Homo sapiens: one gene and its partners. The protein of the gene in region 2 purifies or fractionates together with the protein of the main gene of each other region. This does not show direct contact. Each region holds a gene or a part of one and is shown on either strand. Other genes may lie near its edges. The genes, in order: LPGAT1, ATCAY, CDCA7, GLS and POPDC2.

Region 1 (3,516 bases), on a different chromosome or scaffold from region 2:
GGACATGAATTTTTGGAGTATACTGTTCAACCCAGTACAGAGGGTTCCAAATTCAATTTATGTTTTCATATTTAAACCAGTCACACTTACTAGATTTATCTGATTTATATAAAGCAAACAGGTAAGATATATTTTATGTAAAAACTTATTCTTATTTGCAGTTATATTGACATATATGCCTTCCCACTGCATGGGCCTAGGTATCTAGTATTTTCCACTCATGTAGCACAGATTGCGTTAAAGGACTATTTGGTGATGAGACATCTATTAATACAGATGGAGAGCCAGAAAACTGTCCACATTACCTCTTAATAGCCCACTATTTATAGAACCAAGCTAGACTTTTCTTGAGTTTTAACTGCTGTTCACTTTAGAATAATACTTGAAATGTTCTTACTTATTTTATATCCACAACACCTAACCATGCCTGATGCTGATTTATTGAATGAAGATTGTATTAATGAAAGAATGTTGTGCATGTGTGTGTGTGTTTGTGTGTTTGTATGTCCGTGTGTCTCCATTGGAGGGTTGTCAACAGGGGCATATGGGGAGTTTTCATTTGGTTAGTATATTCTCTGTCCTTTTTAAAAACATAACTAGGCTGGGCGCGGTGGCTCAGGCCTGTAGTCTCAGCACGTTGGGAGGCCGAGGTGGGCGGATCACCTGAGGTTGGGAGTTGAAGACCAGCCTGACCAACATGGAGAAACCCCGTCTCTACTAAAAATACAAGATTAGCCGGGCGTGGTGGCGCATGCCTGTAATCCCAGCTACTTGGGAGGCTGAGGCAGGAGAATCGCTTGAACCTGGGAGTCGGAGGTTGCGGTGAGCTGAGATCACGCCATTGCACTCCAGCCTGGGCAACAAGAGCGAAACTCCGTCTCAAAAACAAAAAAACCAAACAAACAAAAAACACAACTAGTGGCATCCATCATCCTATTCTACACTTTGCTTTTATTACTTAAAGTATATCATTTCATCTTAGTACATAAGTGCTATGTTTGCATAATATTCCATTGCATAGATATAATTTATTTAGGTAGTCTCCCTTAAAAATGTTTTTAATTGTGGTAAAATACGCTAACATAAAATTCACCATCTTAATTTTTCAAGTGTACAGTTCAGTCTTGTTAAGTATATTCACATTGTTGTGGAACCGATATCTAAAACTTTTCCATCTTGTAAAACTGAAACACTGTACTCATTAAACAACAATTTCCCCCTCCCCCAGCCCCTGGCAACCACCATTTCTATGAATTTGAGTTAGCTTCTCTTTCTAGTTGTTTTCATCTTTGCTTTTACAATCAAAGCTGCAGTGAGTAGCCTTGTGTACATGTCATTTTGCACATAAATGAGTATATCTGTAGGATGCATTTCTAGAAGTAGAATTCCTAGGTAAAAAGGTTTGTGCATTTATTAATTTTGAAATATAGTGCAAAATTGGCTTCTAAACAGGTCTCCCTATCCCTATTTCATCCTGAGCTTTTACACACAGGTGGCTTGAATTCTTTCCTTGCAGCAGTGAGTGAGATAAGGTTAGGGTAAAGAATACTAATGTAGAATTGGCCTTTGATAATTCATATCAAAAAATGCTAGAAGATTCTTTGCAGAATTCTGATGTTTGAAAACTGAGGCTTGACATAAATTTACTGTAAAATGAGGTGGCCGAGTGCAGTGGCTCATGTCTGTAATGTCAATACTTTGAGAGGCTGAAGCCGGTGGATTGCTTGAGCCCAGGAGTTTGAGATCAGCCTGGGCAACATGGCAAAACCCTGTGTCTACAAAAAAAATACAAAAGTTAGCTGGACTTGGTGACATGCACCTGTATAGTCCCAGCTACTTGGGAGGCTGAGGTAGGAGGGTCACTGAGCCCAGGGAGCTTGAAGCTGCAGTGAGCCATTGTGATTGCACCATTGCACTCCAGCCAAGGTAACAGAGCAAGATCCTGTCTCAAAAAAGTTAAAAATAAATATAAAATGAAATGAGGCATAACTACATAGAAATACCACTGTTTCCCTTAGAATGTACGTATAGATTTTGGCGCAGTGACTTTTCATCTGATAACTTCAAATAATTTGGCATTTGTATTAGTTTTATTATTTTAAGGTGAAAGTATGCATTATTATGTCTGAATGTTTTCTTATAAAATAGAATCTGAAGGGTTGGGAACCACCTCTCATTGATGATCGGTATTAACAGTTTGAAATTTATTTTTCTAGACGTTTTTCAGTGCATTGAACAACACATGGATGGTATTCCTGCTTTAAAAAGATGGGATCATGCTATATTTACTGTTTTGTGATTTGCTTTGTTAGTTGATAATACATCTTTTTTGGGTTAGTGAATAAGAGATATCCTCCATTATTTTAACGGGTTTATACTCTCCTATTACATCATAATTTTCTTGTCCATTCCCTTGTTGGTGAACATTTAAGTTGTGATAAACATTCTTTATACATATATCTTTGCTTATTTGAACAAGTTTCTGTAGGATAAATTCTAGGAAATAGAACTTCTAGATCAAAGGTATGACCATAGCTGGGCACAGTGGCTCACGCCTGTAATCTCAGCACTTTGGGAGGCCAAGGCAGGTGGATCACTTGAGGTCAAGAGTTTGAGACCAGCCTGGCCAATATGGTGAAACCCCATCTCTACTAAAAATACAAAAATCAGCTGGGCGTGGTGGTGTGCACCTGTAATCCCAGCTACTTGGGAGGCTGAGGCAGGAGAATTGCTTGAACCCGGGAGGTAGAGGTTGCAGTGAGCCAAGATCGCACCACTACACTCCAGCCTGGGTGACAGAGCTAGACTCTGTCTCAAATATAAATAAATAAATAAATAAATAAATAAATAAATAAATAAATAATGATAATTTTATATTTTAATGTATATTTGGGGGCTCTATAAAAGTTATATTAACATTCTGATTTGCACAGGAAATAAACTTAGTTCTAAACTTTCGGATGTTTTAGCTAGGTGACATATCATCATTAATATACATCATTTTTTCTAATATAAGGTTTGTGATAATATAAAAATCTTTAAAATGACAGCTTTGAAACTTTTTTGTTCTTACAGTGATGGAATGGGGAGAAGATATTAAAGCAGTTTCAAAAGATGAAGCAGTGATGTTGGTGAATCATCAGGCAACAGGAGATGTGTGCACACTGATGATGTGCCTCCAGGACAAAGGACTGGTAAGCTACCCTGAAGGCAGTAGATAGACATCCAGAAAGGAAGGTTAAAAAGGAATCCATTTGGCCGGGCATGGTGGCTCATGTCTGTAATCCCAGCACTTTGGGAGGCTGAGGTGGGTGGATCATGAGGTCAAGAGATCGAGGCCATCCAGGACAACAGGGTGAAACCCCATCTCTACTAAAAATACAGAAATTAGCTGGGCGTGGTGGTGTGCACCTGTAGTCCCAGTTACTCGGGAGGCTGAGGCAAGAGAATTGCTTGAACCCGGGAGGCAGAAATTGCAGTGAGCCGAGATCACGCCACTGTACTCCAGCCTAGCAA
Region 2 (3,516 bases):
CCGAGCGTGTGGGCACCGGGACGTGGTGGGTGGTGCGCGGGAGGCAGCTCAGGGCTGGGAGAGGACTCTGACGTTGCCGATCGGCTGCCTCTCCTCAGGGTACTACGGCGAAGGCCTCAACGCCATCATCGTCTTCGCAGCCTGCTTCCTTCCAGACAGCAGCCTCCCCGACTACCACTACATCATGGAGAACCTCTTCCTGTGAGTCCCCGCCCGCGGCGAGCAGCCTCGGGCCAGCTCTGATGCCTCCCTGGCCACAGGGGCACCAGGCTGCAAGGATTGCATTGTGGCCCTAGGAAGCCTGCCTGGCACCAGGGAAGGGCGTGGTGGCCACAGACCTTGATCTGAGTCCCTGCTGGCCCTGAGGCTCACAGTGGCCTTCCCTCTGGGCCACCCTGTTCTCCTCCCCGTCCTCCTCCTCCTCCTCTTCCTCCTCCTTCCCCTCCTCCTCACTGTCCTCCTCCTCCTCCCCTTCTTCCTCCCCCTTCCCCTTTCTTCTCCTCCTTCTCCTCCCCTTCTTCCTCCCCCCTCCTCCTCCCTTTTCTCCTCCTCCTCCCCTTCCCTCTCCTCCTCCCCCTCTTCCCCTTCCCTCTCCTCCTCCCCCCTCTTCCTTCTCCTCCTCTTCCTCCCCTTTCTCCACCTCATCCTCTTTCTCTTCCTCCCCTTTCTCCCCCCTTCCTCCTCCTTCTCCTCCTTCCCTCATCTTCCTCTCCTTCCCTCTCCTCCCCCTCCCCATCCTCCTCCTCCCCATCCTCTTCCCCTTCCTCCTCCTCTTCCCGCTCTGAGATGGCACCACTGCACTCCAGCCTGGGTGACAGAGTGAGAACCTGTCTCAAAAAAAAAAAAAAAAAAAAAAAGCAAGGCCTAGAGACCAGCCTGGCCAACATAGTGAAATCCTGCCTCTACTAAAACTACAATTTAGCTGGGCTCGGTGGCAGGCGCCTGTAATCCCAGCTACTAGGGAGGCTGTGGCAGGAGAATGGCGTGAACCTGGGAGGCGGAGCTTGCAGTGAGCCGAGATCGCACCACTGCACTCTAGCCTGGGCAACAGAGCGAGATTCCGTCTCAAAAAAAAAAAACGACTCAATAAAAGAGTAACTGCCCTATGAGGATGCCCGCTGACACTCATGTGGAGTGTGCTGGGATCATCCACGTCCTCTCCCACCCTGCAGTCCGCCAGGACAGCAGACAACACCTGGACCAGTGGGGCTGACCCAGCCAGCGGCAGGAGTGGAGGCAGGCAGGGTCGGCACCGCAGGTGTCCTGACCCTGGACCCCTCCATGTTGGGTCCCTGCCTTCTGTGCCCCGTGAGCAGGTACGTCATCAGCAGCTTAGAGCTCCTGGTGGCTGAGGACTACATGATCGTGTACCTGAACGGTGCCACGCCCCGGCGGAGGATGCCTGGAATCGGCTGGCTGAAGAAGTGCTACCAGATGATCGACCGGAGGTGAGGTGGGGATGCCTCAGGAAGCACAGTGGGGGCATGAAAATCACACAGGGGGCTGGACATGGTGGCTCACACCTGGAATCCCAGCACTTCGGGAGGCTGAGGTGGGAAGGTCCCTTGAGCCCAGGAGTTTGAGACCAGCCTGGGCAACGCAGCAAGACGCTGTCTCTACAGAAAAACTTTTAGGCCGGGCAAGGGGGCTCACACCTCTAATCCCAGCACTTTGGGAGGCCAAGGTGGGTGGATCACCTGAGGTCAGGAGTTCAAGACCAGCCCGGCCAACATATAGTGAAACCCCATCTCTACTAAAAAAATTCAAAAATTAGCTGGGCGTGGTGGCGCATGCCTGTAGTCCCAGCTACTTGGGAAGCTGAGGCAGGAGAATCACTTGAACCCAGGAGGTGGAGGTTGCAGTGAGCCGAGATCATGCCACTGCACTTCAGCCTGGGCAACAGAGCGAGACTCTGTCCCCATGAAACACTCACTCCCTATTCCTTCTCCCCAGGCTCCGGCACCCCCCATCCTACTTTCTGTCTCTGTAAATCTGATGACTCTAGGGACCTCCTAGGACTGGAATCACACAGGATTTGTCCTTTTGTGTCTGGCTTTCCTCACTGAGTGTGATGTCCTCAGGGTGCATCCACATTGTAGCCTGTGTCAGAGCCTCCTTCCTTTTCATGGCTGCATAATATTCCACTGTATGGACATACCACATTTGGTTTGTCCATTCCATTCATCTCTTGATGGACATGGGTTGCTTCCACCCCTGAGTTATTGTAAATAGCCTCAGAGTGACATTAAAATTGAGCCAGCCAATCCATCCTTGCACCCAGGTTAGTGGAGGGAGGCTCCAAGGACAGGCTGGTCCCTCCTAGGGCATTAGGTGGTGAAAATACAATCTTGGCTGCTCAAATAACTACCAACCTGGTTCACCTGCTCTGCACCATGGGGTCTCTACCTACCTCATCCACCTGAGGGTCTTAGGGACTCAAAGGGTGTGTCTTTATCCCACCATAGGACCCCCATGTCTTGGATGGGGGCAGGGATTTGACAGGTACCTGGAGACCACACGTGGAATGAGCAGAGTGACGAATGCTTGCTTGTGGCTCTCCCGTCCCACCCAGCTCCTCCCTCCCCAGGGCTCGCCCCAGGAGCCCATCTTGCTTCCTTTGCGGCCCCACACAGGTTGCGGAAAAACCTGAAGTCCTTGATCATCGTCCACCCCTCGTGGTTCATTCGGACTGTGCTGGCCATCTCTCGCCCTTTCATCAGGTGAGACGGGGAGGCTGCAACCCAAGTCCAGTGGCCTCAGTGTGCGTGTGTGCGTGTGTGTATGCATGCATTTGTGTGTGCATGTGTGCACGTGTGTGCGTGTGTGCATCTGTGTGTGTGTGCATCCATGTGTGTGTTTGATGTGCATGTTCCAGCTTCTCTATGATGAATACATATTATTGCTTTAAACAGTTTTAAATTGCACACAGCCAGGCACAGTGGCTGACACCTGTAATCCCAGCTACTCAGAAGGCTGAGGTGGGAGGATCGTTTGAGGCCAGCCTGAGCAACATAGCAAAACCCCCATCTCTACAAAAAATACAAAAATTAGCAGGACGTGGTGGTGCACACCTGTAGTTTCAGCTACTTGGGAGGCTCACGTGGGAGGATGGCTTGAGCCCAGGAGATCAAGGCTGCAATGAGCCGTGATCGAGCCACTGTACTCCAGCCTGGATGACAGAGTGAGACCCTGTCTCAAAAGAAAATCAGTCATGCATGGCATCACATGCCTGTAGTCCCAGCTACTCAGGAGGCTGAGGCAGGAGGATCACTTGAGCCCAGGAGGTAGAGGCTGCAGTGAGCTATGATCACTCCACTGCACTCCAGCCTGGGAGACAGAGCAAAACAACCCTGTCTCTAAAAATAAAATATATATATATGTATGTATAAATAAATAAATAATATGACTAATAAATTTAAAATTTAAAACTACATATATTCTATAATGTATATCATATATAGTTACTATATTAAACATATAGTAAAACAGATCAAGTGAAATAAAATTAGGCATGTT
Region 3 (4,125 bases), on a different chromosome or scaffold from region 2:
TTTAGCTTTAGTGGCACAAAATTATATTCCCAAATGTTTATTCATTCAACAAATACTTACTGAGGGCCCTGTAATTCCGTAATTTCACCACCCACCGATAGCCTCTCCTCCTGGCACTCACCTTCTAGACCTTGAGCTCTTTGTCCCTTGCACAGTGGCAGAGTGATTACTGGGTAGGTATATTTAAGAAAGGCTGGAAGACTCCTTCCAATCCATTGTCCTCGGGCATTATTTACTTGCTCACAGTTTTTGTATTCAGTACACCAAGAGAGGAACACAGTATGTCCATGCACTCTCTTACTGCAAAGGAATTAATTATTCCCCAGAGAAAAGTTTTGAAATGAGGGGGAAATGCGAATGTTTTCATTTCAAGCGCTTGTTTTAAATGTTAAGAGTATAATTAGTGTCTTCTAAAGAAACTAAATTTACTTTTTCTTGTAGAAGCAAGTTTTGCTCTTCACGCACACAAAAAGCCTCGCTTTATTTCATTTTTTCGTTGTAATGCCAAGTTTGGTTAAAAGGGCAATGAAAAGTTTTCTCGTTCGCACTGACTCAGGGTAGTTCTCAATTCTGAAGACAGAGAAGATCATCAAGCCACAATTGTTCAATCTTTAGTTTCAATCCCCAACAGATAATCGTTAAAGGTTAACTATACTATAGACGTCTTCATCAAGCTGCTGCGGCTTTTCTTCTACTTTGAAAACCACAAGTAAACAAGTCGGCTTCCTGTGCTTTTTGGAAAGAAAGATCAGGATTTAACTCATTTTATTGCTTCAGATAATGGTGTGGTTCCCAGATAAGAGGTGCTACATCCAGGGGCGGTGAACTCGATTATGAAGGGTGGAGTTCGTGCTGGATTCTATGATTTTTTAAATCTTGTAAACCGCACGCAGCAATGAAAGTGCTAAACGCCATGGTGCGTGACCCGCGCCACCCTCACGCTGCTCTCCTTTACCCCCCAGACTCCACTTTTCCTCCGCCACCACGAAAATTCTTGCAAATCAGACAGCTAACCCCGGGGCAATACGAACCATTTTCGCGCCACTCGCTCAGGACCGCGCAGCTGCACAAGGAGAGTGGTCCCCGTAGCCCCTAAAGCCCCCCTTTCTCAAAGGGGATTTTAGGAGTGCCCAAGGCTATCCTTTGAGGTCAGAATATATAGGGGGGTCGTGTTTTTTCCAGGGGGCCACCTAGTCTTGCGCCATGTCTGGCCGTTACCACAGCTTGCAGGACCTGTGTCCCAACGCGGGAAAGACAGCCCGAGCCCCGCCCCTCCGGGCCCGGGTCGGCGCGCCCAGCCTGCCAGCCGCGCTGCTGCTGCTCCTCCTGCTGTGGGACCGCTGACCGCGCGGCTGCTCCGCTCTCCCCGCTCCAAGCGCCGATCTGGGCACCCGCCACCAGCATGGACGCTCGCCGCGTGCCGGTGAGGGCTGGGCGGGCGAACCCGAGGGGCGGGCGCGGTGGGTGCTGGACGCAGGCGGGCGCGGGCCGACCCTCTCCAACTCCGCAGCCTAGCGCTGCCTTAACTGGTGGCCTGCCTAGGCGTTGCCCGCTTGGGCAAGCCCCTGATTTTGTGCACCTGGGATAACTGAGGGCCATGGGGACGTTCCTGCGTGGCGTGCGCACCCGAAGTGCGGGCGGCGTGGAGACTTGAGTCGTTTGCAGGATGGCTAGCAGCGCTGGAAAGCCCTAGGCACGTGCGTCCGCCAAAGGCCGGACAGCGGCCGGGAGCGCTGGCCGGTCCCGATTTTGCCTGCCAGGCAGAGCCAGCCTGCCTGCCCCCTGGGAGGTTGTCCCGCAGCGGCCCAGCCCTTTCCCGCACACAACTCGGAGCCAGTGCGTGGCTCGCCGCGTCTATACCCGCGCTCAGTGGGTGGCCCTTGGGCGCGCACCCCGCCCGGCAAGAGACGCGTCCGCTTCTAACCGCTGAGGGCCAGCGCGTCTGAGGTTTAAGGTCTTGCGAACCGGTCTCCTAGAACTTGGGCTGCGCACGCAGTGTGAAGCGACCGTAGTCCCGGGCGGTGGTTAAGTGCATTTAAAGGGCTTGGTGGGTCAAAGCGTTCGCCGACCATTTGCTCGTTTCCTACTTCCTCCACCCCAACCCCCAACCCCCCACCCCCCACCCCCCAGCCTTACTCTTAGCTGCAGGACGTTGCTCTGAGTGGAACGTTACTTTTTGCTCTAACGGAAGCCAGAACGTAGGGTCGGGCTCCTGGAGAGGGTAGAAGAGTGGGGGTTGGGTGAAACGGAAGACAATGACATGTTTAAAATAAATATCAGGGGTTAGGGACCCTCGCGGGGGTGGGTGCGATGGGGCGTGGTTTCAGAGCTGAGTCGCCGCCCCGGTGGAGCTGGGCATTGGCTTTCCGGATGAAGAAAACCATGTGTAGCTGGTCTTGGAACCTGACATGCCTGAGTTCAAATCTGAGCCACCATGGGACTTGAGTAATCCATTTCGCTTTCCTGAGCCTCAGTTTCCTCATTGGCTAAGTGAGAATAACGATAGCACCTTTGTTGCAAAGAATTAAACCTGACGTGAAAGTGTACTTAACATAGTGCCTGGCACGAAAAACGCCTACTATAAATGGTATTAGTTATTACTTACCTGCCAAAGAAGTTCATCTCCGTCTTGACTATTTGCCTTGCTGCTTTTTTGTGGCTTTTCCTCCAAAGATACGTTTGCCTGGTAAATAACTCTTGGCTTGTGCTGACTTGTTAAAGCTCAGCCTGTATTTCTCGGACAGCTTCCAATAGAATGCCGCCTTTGAGGCTGTCTGGGGCCTCTGACTGCTTGCAGGTAGATTGATGAGTAAAGGGTGGTAATTCCTGCAGTAATGCGATGAACACTGCTGCTTAAGAAGATGGCAGACTTGAGTTCTCCTTCCTGCCCCTGTGATCTTGCAGTCTATTACACCTTCCTGGGGCCTTGAATATCCTCATCTGGAAAATGGGATCTGAGATCCTTTTCAGCTCCCAACATTCATTGTGTCCCAGGCTGGAGTGCAGTGGCACAGTCACGGCTCACTGCAGCCTACCGGGCTCAAGCAGTCTTCCCACCTCAGCCTCCCAAGTAACTGGGATTACATGTACGCACCGCCACATCCGGCTGATTTTTGTGTTTTTAGTAGAGACGGGGTTTCACCATATTCCCCACGCTGGTCTCGAACTCGTGGGCTCAAGTGATCCTCCCACCTTGGCTTCCCAAAGCGCTGAGATTACAGGTGTGAGCCACCCCCCTACACATACACCTAACCTTTATATTTAGTAGCTCTACCTTTTACACGTTGTCCTGCCTTGTTAAGAGGGCAAAAGACAAAAACTTCCTAAGATGATTGAACGGAGTTTACTTAGGGGTATAGGGATGTTGGGAGTGCCATCATCATGAAAATAACTTTATCTGCAAGAGACTGAAATGCGTAATGTTAGGCCAAGAAGGAGGGCAAGAATGTTCTGGTCACCTGACATCTTACATCTTAGCATATTTTGTAGAATCTATACCAGAGCTTGCCCTTTCAAAGTTTTCAGTGTAAGGAATCACTTCTGCTATTCCATGGCCCCATTTAAGGAATAAAAACACAGGACCTAATGCAACACTTAGGAAATCTCGTTAAATATTAAGAAATGACAAACCACTATCCTTTTTTTATACAAGATAGATGCCAATTACATTTTCTGAGAGCAGTGCCAGGCTGTTCAGTATTTATGAATGAATGAAGCATTTCTATGTAAGTAATTTGCACTTTATAAAAGGACTTTTAAAAACTTAAGTCTTGTATAGCAAAGGGACAGCAACAAGAACTGAATGACAGCCTCAAGTAATAGAGTGCTAAAATGGAATCCGGTATCCCACCTGCATTTGGAGTGCTATTTGATCTTTAACTTGGCTCCTTGTACCATTTGTTGAAGCGTTTGATGTATTTGCTTTGTAAGGACTTCTGTGGAAATCACGATAGCCCTCTTGATTGGAAAGGGGCCTGCTTGGAAGCCTGCCATCTTGAAGTAGAGGTCCTGCCCAGTTTTTGTAGTTTGTGAAATTAGCATCACAGTACATAGCCCAAAGCTTACATAAAAATACCTCATTAGCTTGATTTTGGCTGAGGGAGAAAAATCTTTCTCCCCTTTTGT
Region 4 (3,516 bases), on a different chromosome or scaffold from region 2:
AGCAAACTTTGCCTCAGCCTCACCTGTGAACAAAACCCTTGTAAGGTTCATATGCTTAGCAGCTTGAAAAGCTTCTTTTGATATAATATGAAAGAATGCTGTGTATTTTATTGCCTTTGGGGAAAATAAATACTTGTTAAAATTGATCTTTTTTTGCATTATAGTTTAAAGCATGTTCATAAATTTCAGATGTCACCCATGTCCATTTTGTCAGTATAACACGCTCTGATATTTCGTTACTTTAAATGATAGCCTTTATTAGTGTTGTAGGTTATTTCTGCCATTCAAAACTTTTTTAAATTAAAAATTCTAAATTAAACCCATCAACTCCATCTTACCTTAAGACAGAGCAGGGAAGCAAGAAAATTTCACGGTCATAGGTCTTAGGCCGAGGTTTTATACTGCAGTTAGGCTGGTGGTGTGTTACATTCTCTCTGGCGGGTTTCCGGATGTTCAGATGTCTGGCTTTTGAGCCAAAGGCAGAATGAGCAATTACATACATCTGAAAATTGGGCTGTCATGCCTTAAAATGATTTAGTGTTCTTTAAGACATCTTGAGTGTAGTATATGTAGCATTTGCAGAGTATTTATCATTTGGAAAATATTTAATACTCACATTTATGTGATACCATTTGGAGTACATAGATTAGCAGTCTTCTAGGACTGTAGAGTCTAAGCCTGATAATGTCAAAAGCTCTGAAATGACAGATAATAAACATCCATACAAATAAAAGTATAAACTAATTTATACTAATTTAAACTAATTTAAACTAATTTGGGATAGGCAAATCTTGATTGTAATAATCAGATATAACACAAAGATTTTATTTTAACTTTTGAAACTTGGCATTATGAATACACCCAAAATGTAGGATATTTTTCTTTTTATTTATTTATTTTTAATTGACAGATAAAAATTGTGTATATGGTATACAACATAGTGATTTGAAATATATATGCATTGTGGAATGGCTAAATCAAAGTAACATACATTACTTCATATATTTATTTGTAATGAGAAGACAAAGTATGCTTTCTTAACAATTTTCAAGTACATATAATACTTGTTATTAATTATATCATGTTATAAAATAGATCTCTTGAACTTATTCCCCCTGTGTAACTGAAATTATGTGTCCTTTGACCAACATCTGGCAATCCCTTCTCCCCCCTCCCCCACTTCTGGTAACCACCAGGTAGATAAATTAAGATGTTGAGGTTCGCTTGTAAATAGATGTTTTCACTGTCCCCAAGATTTTATTTTTGGTGCTTGTGTCATGCAGTGAATGAGAATATAATCAGTTGAGTTTTGAAATTCTTATTTATTGTAAGAATTAGGAGAAGAAATAGGAGTTTGGATTAATGTAAAGTTTTAAGTAACTTTAAAATTATATAAGAAATACAAATATACCTTTATTGTCAGGAAATACAGAAAGCCTAAAAATATCCCCTATAGGCTGTGCATGGTGGCTCATGCCTATAATCCCAGCACTTTGGGAGGCCAAGGCGGGAGGATTGCTTGAGTCCTGGAGTTTGAGTCCAGCCTGGGCAACATAGGGAGATCCTGTCTCTACAGAAAATAAAACATTAGCCAGGTGTGGTATGTGCCTGTGGTCCCAGCTTCTTTGGAGTCTGAGGCTGGAGGATCACTTAAGCCTGGGAGGTCAAGGCTTCAGTGAGCCATGATTGTGCCACTGCACTTCAGCCTGGGCGACAGTCTGAAACTTTGGCTCTTAAAAAAAAAATCCCTTATAATTTTATTATTCTATGTAAATCACTTGTTTGTGTTTTGAAATCCTTCTGTGTATGTGCTTGTATATAAAGATAAAAATAAAGCACTAAGAAAAAAGCAAAATTGAGTACGTTAGCTGTGCTTTTTCCAAGGTCATTTTTAGTATAGTAATATTACTCAAGTGTTTAAGTATTTGAAATAATGGTATTGCTTTTATATTTTACAGATAAACCACATAATCCTATGGTAAATGCTGGAGCAATTGTTGTGACTTCACTAATAAAGGTAAAATGTTGATGTTTCATTTTAACCTAGTAAAACTTTTTTTTTTTAACAGCTAAGGCATAAAGATGAATCTGGGATTATTTATGTAGAATTATGAAAAATTTTCTCTTGGTGTTAAGAAATTTGTCTTATGGTATAGTGTTAGGATCTTTATTTCAAAATAAATGATGTAGTCATTTCAAGGCAAAATTAAAACAGATGACTCATTGTAAATTCCAACAGTCATTTACTCTTGACTTGAAGATCTGGAAAATATTTAAAGTCTGCTGAAGAAAGGCATAGAGGCTTTTTTTTTTTTTTTAAAGTTTTGATATTTTTCCTTTCGTTTCCTTTTGGTTCTTCCAGAATGAACAGTTATAAATAGAATTAAAGGCATTTTACTGTATATTTGTTATTAGTATATGTGGGAACAAATGTTCTGGTACTTAAGACAAAGTACATTTACCCTCAAATATTCTCAAGTCTTTGATACTCTCATGAGCTGAAATCACAGTTTTTATTGGAACTTGTTTCATTTGGTTTTACTTAAATCATGCCATAATTAAAATAAATAAGGCTTATTCCAATTATGGAGTTATATTTTCTTATGCTTTGAAATTTGCATTGTAAGGGTTTTTTTTTTTTTTAGTGTTTGGTTTGCGTTAATAATTGGAAGATCTAGTATTTTAAAATAAGTATTTGAAAATGGTTCCTGTGTGATAGATTTTTAAATCTACCACACGATTTTAGATGTTTCAGATTTTTAATTTCTAATTATAAATTTTATTTATATTTAAATAAATTTTATTTATGTTTGGAACATTTGTATACTTCTTTGGTAAATCTGTGCCTATCTATTCCAAGTTAGAGGAAAGCATAACTACATGGCCTTGTAAATGCATTACTGTGGATAAGGTACCCTGGTTACATGAAGGATATTTGAGTATAAATGATACCCTTGGCCCAGTTCACAAAATTTCATCTAACTTGTATACTAGAAAGCCTTTCTTAACTTTTAAGAGTTTTATATCTGTGAGAAAAAGCTTTTAAAATAGAAGGCTGGTATCTTAAGAATCTATATGTTTACTTGTTACTTCAAGGCAAATTCTTTGAAAGTATTGGCCCATTTAATTCTTATAACTCTAATGAAGTAGATGTTATAGCCAAGTGTTTTTAAAATGTAACTAATTGTAATAGGATATGGAGAAAGCTGTCAGTTTGAGCTGAAAGAAACTTGAAAATGCGATTATTTGCAAGGCACAGTCCTAGCTTTAGGTAGCTTACTTTGTAGTGTGGGATATGCAAAAGTAAATGGGTCCTTATAAGAAAATTCAATAAATGCTGTGATGAGAGAAAAGCCTCATTAATAATTGCTTAGATTTGAACAAGTAACTTAAAGTAGAAATAAGGAAACACATACTATAATGTATGTGTTAATGCTTGATGACAAAAACACCAAAAGTGTTTCTTCCCAGAAAAATATCCACATACCATAATTTTACATAAACTTTCAGGTGTTC
Region 5 (4,240 bases), on a different chromosome or scaffold from region 2:
GTTTCTTCTTCCTTCTTGATCTACTGGAAGATGGATGATCTTCTCCTAAATGAATAGCTTAGATAGTTAGTTGCCTGCTCAGGGGGTTGTATATATGGAAGTTTGTGTTTTGAATTTTATATGAGAGAAACGTCTAAGTTAAGCGCTGCTTAACAGGGTGATAGACTTTGAGAAAGTCACTTTCCCTCTCTGAGTTTTGAAAGAGATTGGTTTCCTTTATTAAAACAAAACAAAAAGACTTCTGAGGTTTGAGTGAAGGACTCTAGAGAACAGTGTGCATGTGAGATGTGGAAGTCTGCACAAGAGTCCCCACTTCCTGGCACAAAGTTCTTGTCTGCTGCTTTGAGATGTTTGGTCCCTTACTGTAACCAGCCCAAGGTTCAGTGATTCTCCTTTAAAACTAGAGCCCAGTCATAGACTAGAAGCCTTTTCCTCTATGTCCAGCTCAGCAAAGCTGAGACAGGGTGACACTGAAAGATAACAAAACTCTTACTCCAAACCTTGAAAGGCAGGAAAAAAAAAAATCAAAATTGTCTAATTTCTGACTCAGCCTTTTGATGCTAAGTATACCAGGAAAAGCTACACCAAGGGCAAGCCCCCCTCTCCCCTTCACTGGGAAGTGATCTTATACAAGTTCACAGTAAATCTATCCTAACTGAACTATACAGTAACCATACATGCTTCCAGCAAATGGGCACCCTACACTGGAGGGAGCACTTCTGCTGCTCTCAATTTCCTCCTTTGAACAGACGAGCTATAACATCATGGGTCTCATGAATGAGCAAGTTCCCTAAATTGTCTTTAAGCATGGAACTATAGGTGCAAACATTTTCACAATAGTTATATGTATTTGTATTTACATCTATATCTGTTTACAAATAATCGCATTGGTTTACACTTTCAGTTCACCAATAAATGAAATGAAATGTACCCTCACAAAATGTCTCCCCTCCTAGCTCACTCTATCCAGGACCTCTGAGTTCAAACAAAATCAAAACATATATACATGATACTTCAGGTTCTATAAATGAATACACAAACACGTATTATTACTATTAGTGGTAGTTGTAGTACCATTAGCATCATTGTCAAACTTTTTTCTCCATTGTGTGGTTGGCAGTATTATCTGGATTTGCTTTTTTTTTTTTTTTTTCTTGGAATTGGAGCCTTCTAATTGCCATCTTACCTTTTCTATCACATTCTCCTGGTCTCAAGAAAGCTGGTGGAGTGGGGGTTGTGGGGCTCAAGAGCCACTAGGGCAGTATAAAAAAATCCACAATTGCCTACTAAGTGTGTAGCACAGAGCCCCGTGATGTTTTCTCAGAAGAAATCAATGCCCAACATTCACATCCAGGTTGACTGGGCATACACTGATCCTGACTAAGACCATTTCTGCCCATATCTGACTGTCAGCCTTCTCCAAAAGAGGCGGTGCTTCCACAAAAGCCTTGATGAGATAGGTGTATCACTTCTCTTCTCCCATTGTTGGGCCCTCAGATTTACAGTACTGTACTTGACTTCTTAGTCTTCAAGAACCTCAATAGAACAACTGGAAATGGAAAGGTGGGCAAGGGGTATTCACTCTCCCTACCTGGCTACATACAGCTACCCCAAACACAAGTGGGGCTGTTTGCTTGATGCCTTGGCAGGGAACAGGGGTTATGAGAACCACCCCGCTATCCCGACCTCCCATTTCTGGCATTGTTCCCTGAATACAGTTGGTGCTTAGCAAATGTTGAATTTGAGTAAGGAACAGATTAACCTTATTGAAATGTTAGTTTTTCAAAGCTTACAGAGATATTGCTGCAGCTTAGGCATGACACACTGATATGTGTGTGGTGATGGTAGAGGGGTTATTTAAGGCCCAGGCTCAAGACACACGCACTGCACACCTTCCAGCAGCAAGTGCACATACAATCATTCTTGCCAACCAAGATGCCTCATGAACTGGTTTCTTCTTGGAAAATGCCAAGAAAGAGGAAGCAACCCCACTCTTAGAAAAATCTATTTTGGTTTGTTTGACTTGTCACATCCTTCCCTCAATGGAAGGGGACACGAAATGGAAAGGGACATGAAATGGAAAGGGACACACTAGGAAATGAGAAGTGTGGGCTGGGGAAAGAAATTCTGGGCAATGGATAGAGTAGCTTACCGGCCAGAGAGCAGCAGGGACAGGCGGTTGATGGGTGTCTCACCCTCCACAGCATAGGTCTGTTCAGTGGCCAGAGTTAAGACCTGCTCCTCGCAGCAGTGAACAATCTCCTTGTATGTCTGTAGGGGCACCTGCAAGGGCAGGCACAGCGTCTTGTAGAGGAGGTCAAACTCCTCAGGGAGGGTGTCCTCACGCAGGCGGTATACCAGGTGTGCCAGCTGGAGCAGGCAGACCACAGCCAGCAGGAAGCTCCAAAGAACAATGTCCAGGCCACAGGCACTGAACCAGCCCCACAGCACGCAGCACAGGTAACCTGCACTCAGGAAGCCAAAAAGATAGAAGCATCCATACACCCCACTGCCCCCCATGAAGCCCAGGAGTAAGAGGCAGTTGGCTAGGTGGTAGACAGCCCCTTCCACATCCTGCTTCCACCTAATGCACGCTGAACCCTGCAAGAGAAGCTGGCCCACTCTGCTGCTGTTGGCGCTCATCTTTGGGGCCTCTCAAAGCCTCACTGGGCTCTAATACTGTCCTCACATAGGAAATTCAGAAAATGAATGAATCCATCCGCTCAGGGGTCTTCTCACCTCCGGCTTCTCACTACCGACTCCACCTTTCCTAGAAGGAATGCTTCCGGTGGCTTTGGGAAGGAATGATGGAACATAGTACACTTCATGGAGAATTTAAAAACCTCTTTCTCTCTCTCTCTCTCTCTCCCCCTCTCCCCCCCTCTCTCCTCCCCACCACCCCCGCTGTCTCAGCAAGGCTCTGGCTCTCCCTGCAGAGCTCTGGCAAGCTTCCTTGGTTCCATGTTTCTTGGGAGTCTTCAAATTTGGTTCTTAGCAGAAAAACCTAAATAGTCCCAAGGGAAAGTAGCACTACAGGACTGAAAAGTCCAGCAGCGTGGGATGATGCGGCCACATCCTGCTCTCTGTTTTTCCCAAGCAGAATGAGGAGAGCCAGCATGGGAGGCACATTTGTGTTCCATTTGGAATGTGTTCTCTCTTGGCACCGGAAGAAAGGGTGACCCCAGATGGATACCATGTTTGGAATTGGAATCCAAGAGGTACTGGCAGTGAGAAAAAACAGGCCAGGCACAGGCAGCCTGGCAGAGCACTTAACATACCTCCCAGAGGACAAGATAAGACCTCAGGGTCAGAGAGACAGACAAGGAGAGAGAAAGGAAAAGTGAGCACAGAATTCACCTGAACACCTCAGGCAGGAAACTGTCCCGAGCTCCCTTTGGGGAGAGCCAGACAGTGCTTCTGAGTGAGGACACATCAGAGTAGGAAAGTATGGGACTATTATCAGAAAAAATCCTAACAGTGAAAGCTGGAAAACCCCCTGAAGGCCTTTATTAAGTCACACTGCAAATATCATTATGTATTTATTTGACATCCATTTAACAAAAGTAGCTATGTAAAGTGGCTTTTTGAATTCTAAGCTGGCTTTCCCCTGCATATATCTGGATCTGGTAATAGTAAACAAATAATAATACATTGCCCAGATCATCATCCCACCCACTCCGGTGCTTCCAAATTATAATTCCCACCTATTAAACACCCATGAAGTGCCAAACCTAGATTAGGCATTTTATACACTTATAAGTTAGTTGTGACAACAATCCTTCAAAATAAATATTATTCTCCTTCTAGATCTGGAAGAAACTGAGGCTCAGAGAGGTAACAAGCTCCCACAGATGGTCTAAGTGGCAGAGCCAGGATTTGAACCCAAGTCTGTCAAACTTAATACTCTGTCCCAAGGGGTTTGCCAGTAAGTGGAAGTACAGTACTAGATCCATGACTCCCAACTCCACACTTCTATGAAGTCTGACAATTTTCAAGGAACTTCTGGTTGAACCTAGGAATCTACTTTGGGCTGCCAAGAGATAAAGCTGGAGTATGCAAACATTAGGCTAAGAAATGTTAGTTGGGCACAGTGGCTTACGCCTATAATCGCAGCACTTTGGGAGGCTGAGGCGGGTGGATCACCTGAGTGAGGCTGGAGTTCGAGACCAGCCTGGCCAACATGGTGGAAACCCTGTCTCTACTAAAAGTATAAAAATTAGCTGGGCGTGGTGGCGGGCAC

The links.
Region 1: the proteins of ATCAY (region 2) and LPGAT1 purify together in Homo sapiens (co-immunoprecipitation; one large-scale study listed by IntAct). This does not show direct contact.
Region 3: the proteins of ATCAY (region 2) and CDCA7 purify together in Homo sapiens (co-immunoprecipitation; one large-scale study listed by IntAct). This does not show direct contact.
Region 4: the proteins of ATCAY (region 2) and GLS purify together in Homo sapiens (affinity purification with western blotting, with the first as the bait; one study listed by BioGRID). This does not show direct contact.
Region 5: the proteins of ATCAY (region 2) and POPDC2 purify together in Homo sapiens (co-immunoprecipitation; one large-scale study listed by IntAct). This does not show direct contact.

The regions. Positions count from the first base shown.
Region 1 is NC_000001.11:211,792,750-211,796,265, reverse strand, and holds part of LPGAT1 (acyl-CoA:lysophosphatidylglycerol acyltransferase 1), read left to right. Parts: intron 1-3,075; coding exon 3,076-3,194; intron 3,195-3,516. UniProt on the Homo sapiens protein: Lysophospholipid acyltransferase involved in fatty acyl chain remodeling of glycerophospholipids in the endoplasmic reticulum membrane.
Region 2 is NC_000019.10:3,908,170-3,911,685, forward strand, and holds part of ATCAY (caytaxin), read left to right. Parts: intron 1-98; coding exon 99-201; intron 202-1,316; coding exon 1,317-1,448; intron 1,449-2,633; coding exon 2,634-2,720; intron 2,721-3,516.
Region 3 is NC_000002.12:173,353,562-173,357,686, forward strand, and holds the start of CDCA7 (cell division cycle-associated protein 7), read left to right. Parts: upstream 1-1,310; 5' UTR 1,311-1,402; coding exon 1,403-1,423; intron 1,424-4,125. UniProt on the Homo sapiens protein: Participates in MYC-mediated cell transformation and apoptosis; induces anchorage-independent growth and clonogenicity in lymphoblastoid cells. Insufficient to induce tumorigenicity when overexpressed but contributes to MYC-mediated tumorigenesis.
Region 4 is NC_000002.12:190,908,305-190,911,820, forward strand, and holds part of GLS (glutaminase kidney isoform, mitochondrial isoform 1 precursor), read left to right. Parts: intron 1-1,958; coding exon 1,959-2,017; intron 2,018-3,516. UniProt on the Homo sapiens protein: Catalyzes the first reaction in the primary pathway for the renal catabolism of glutamine. Plays a role in maintaining acid-base homeostasis. Regulates the levels of the neurotransmitter glutamate, the main excitatory neurotransmitter in the brain.
Region 5 is NC_000003.12:119,657,781-119,662,020, forward strand, and holds the start of POPDC2 (popeye domain-containing protein 2), read right to left. Parts: upstream 2,810-4,240; 5' UTR 2,644-2,809; coding exon 2,153-2,643; intron 1-2,152. UniProt on the Homo sapiens protein: Important for the maintenance of cardiac function.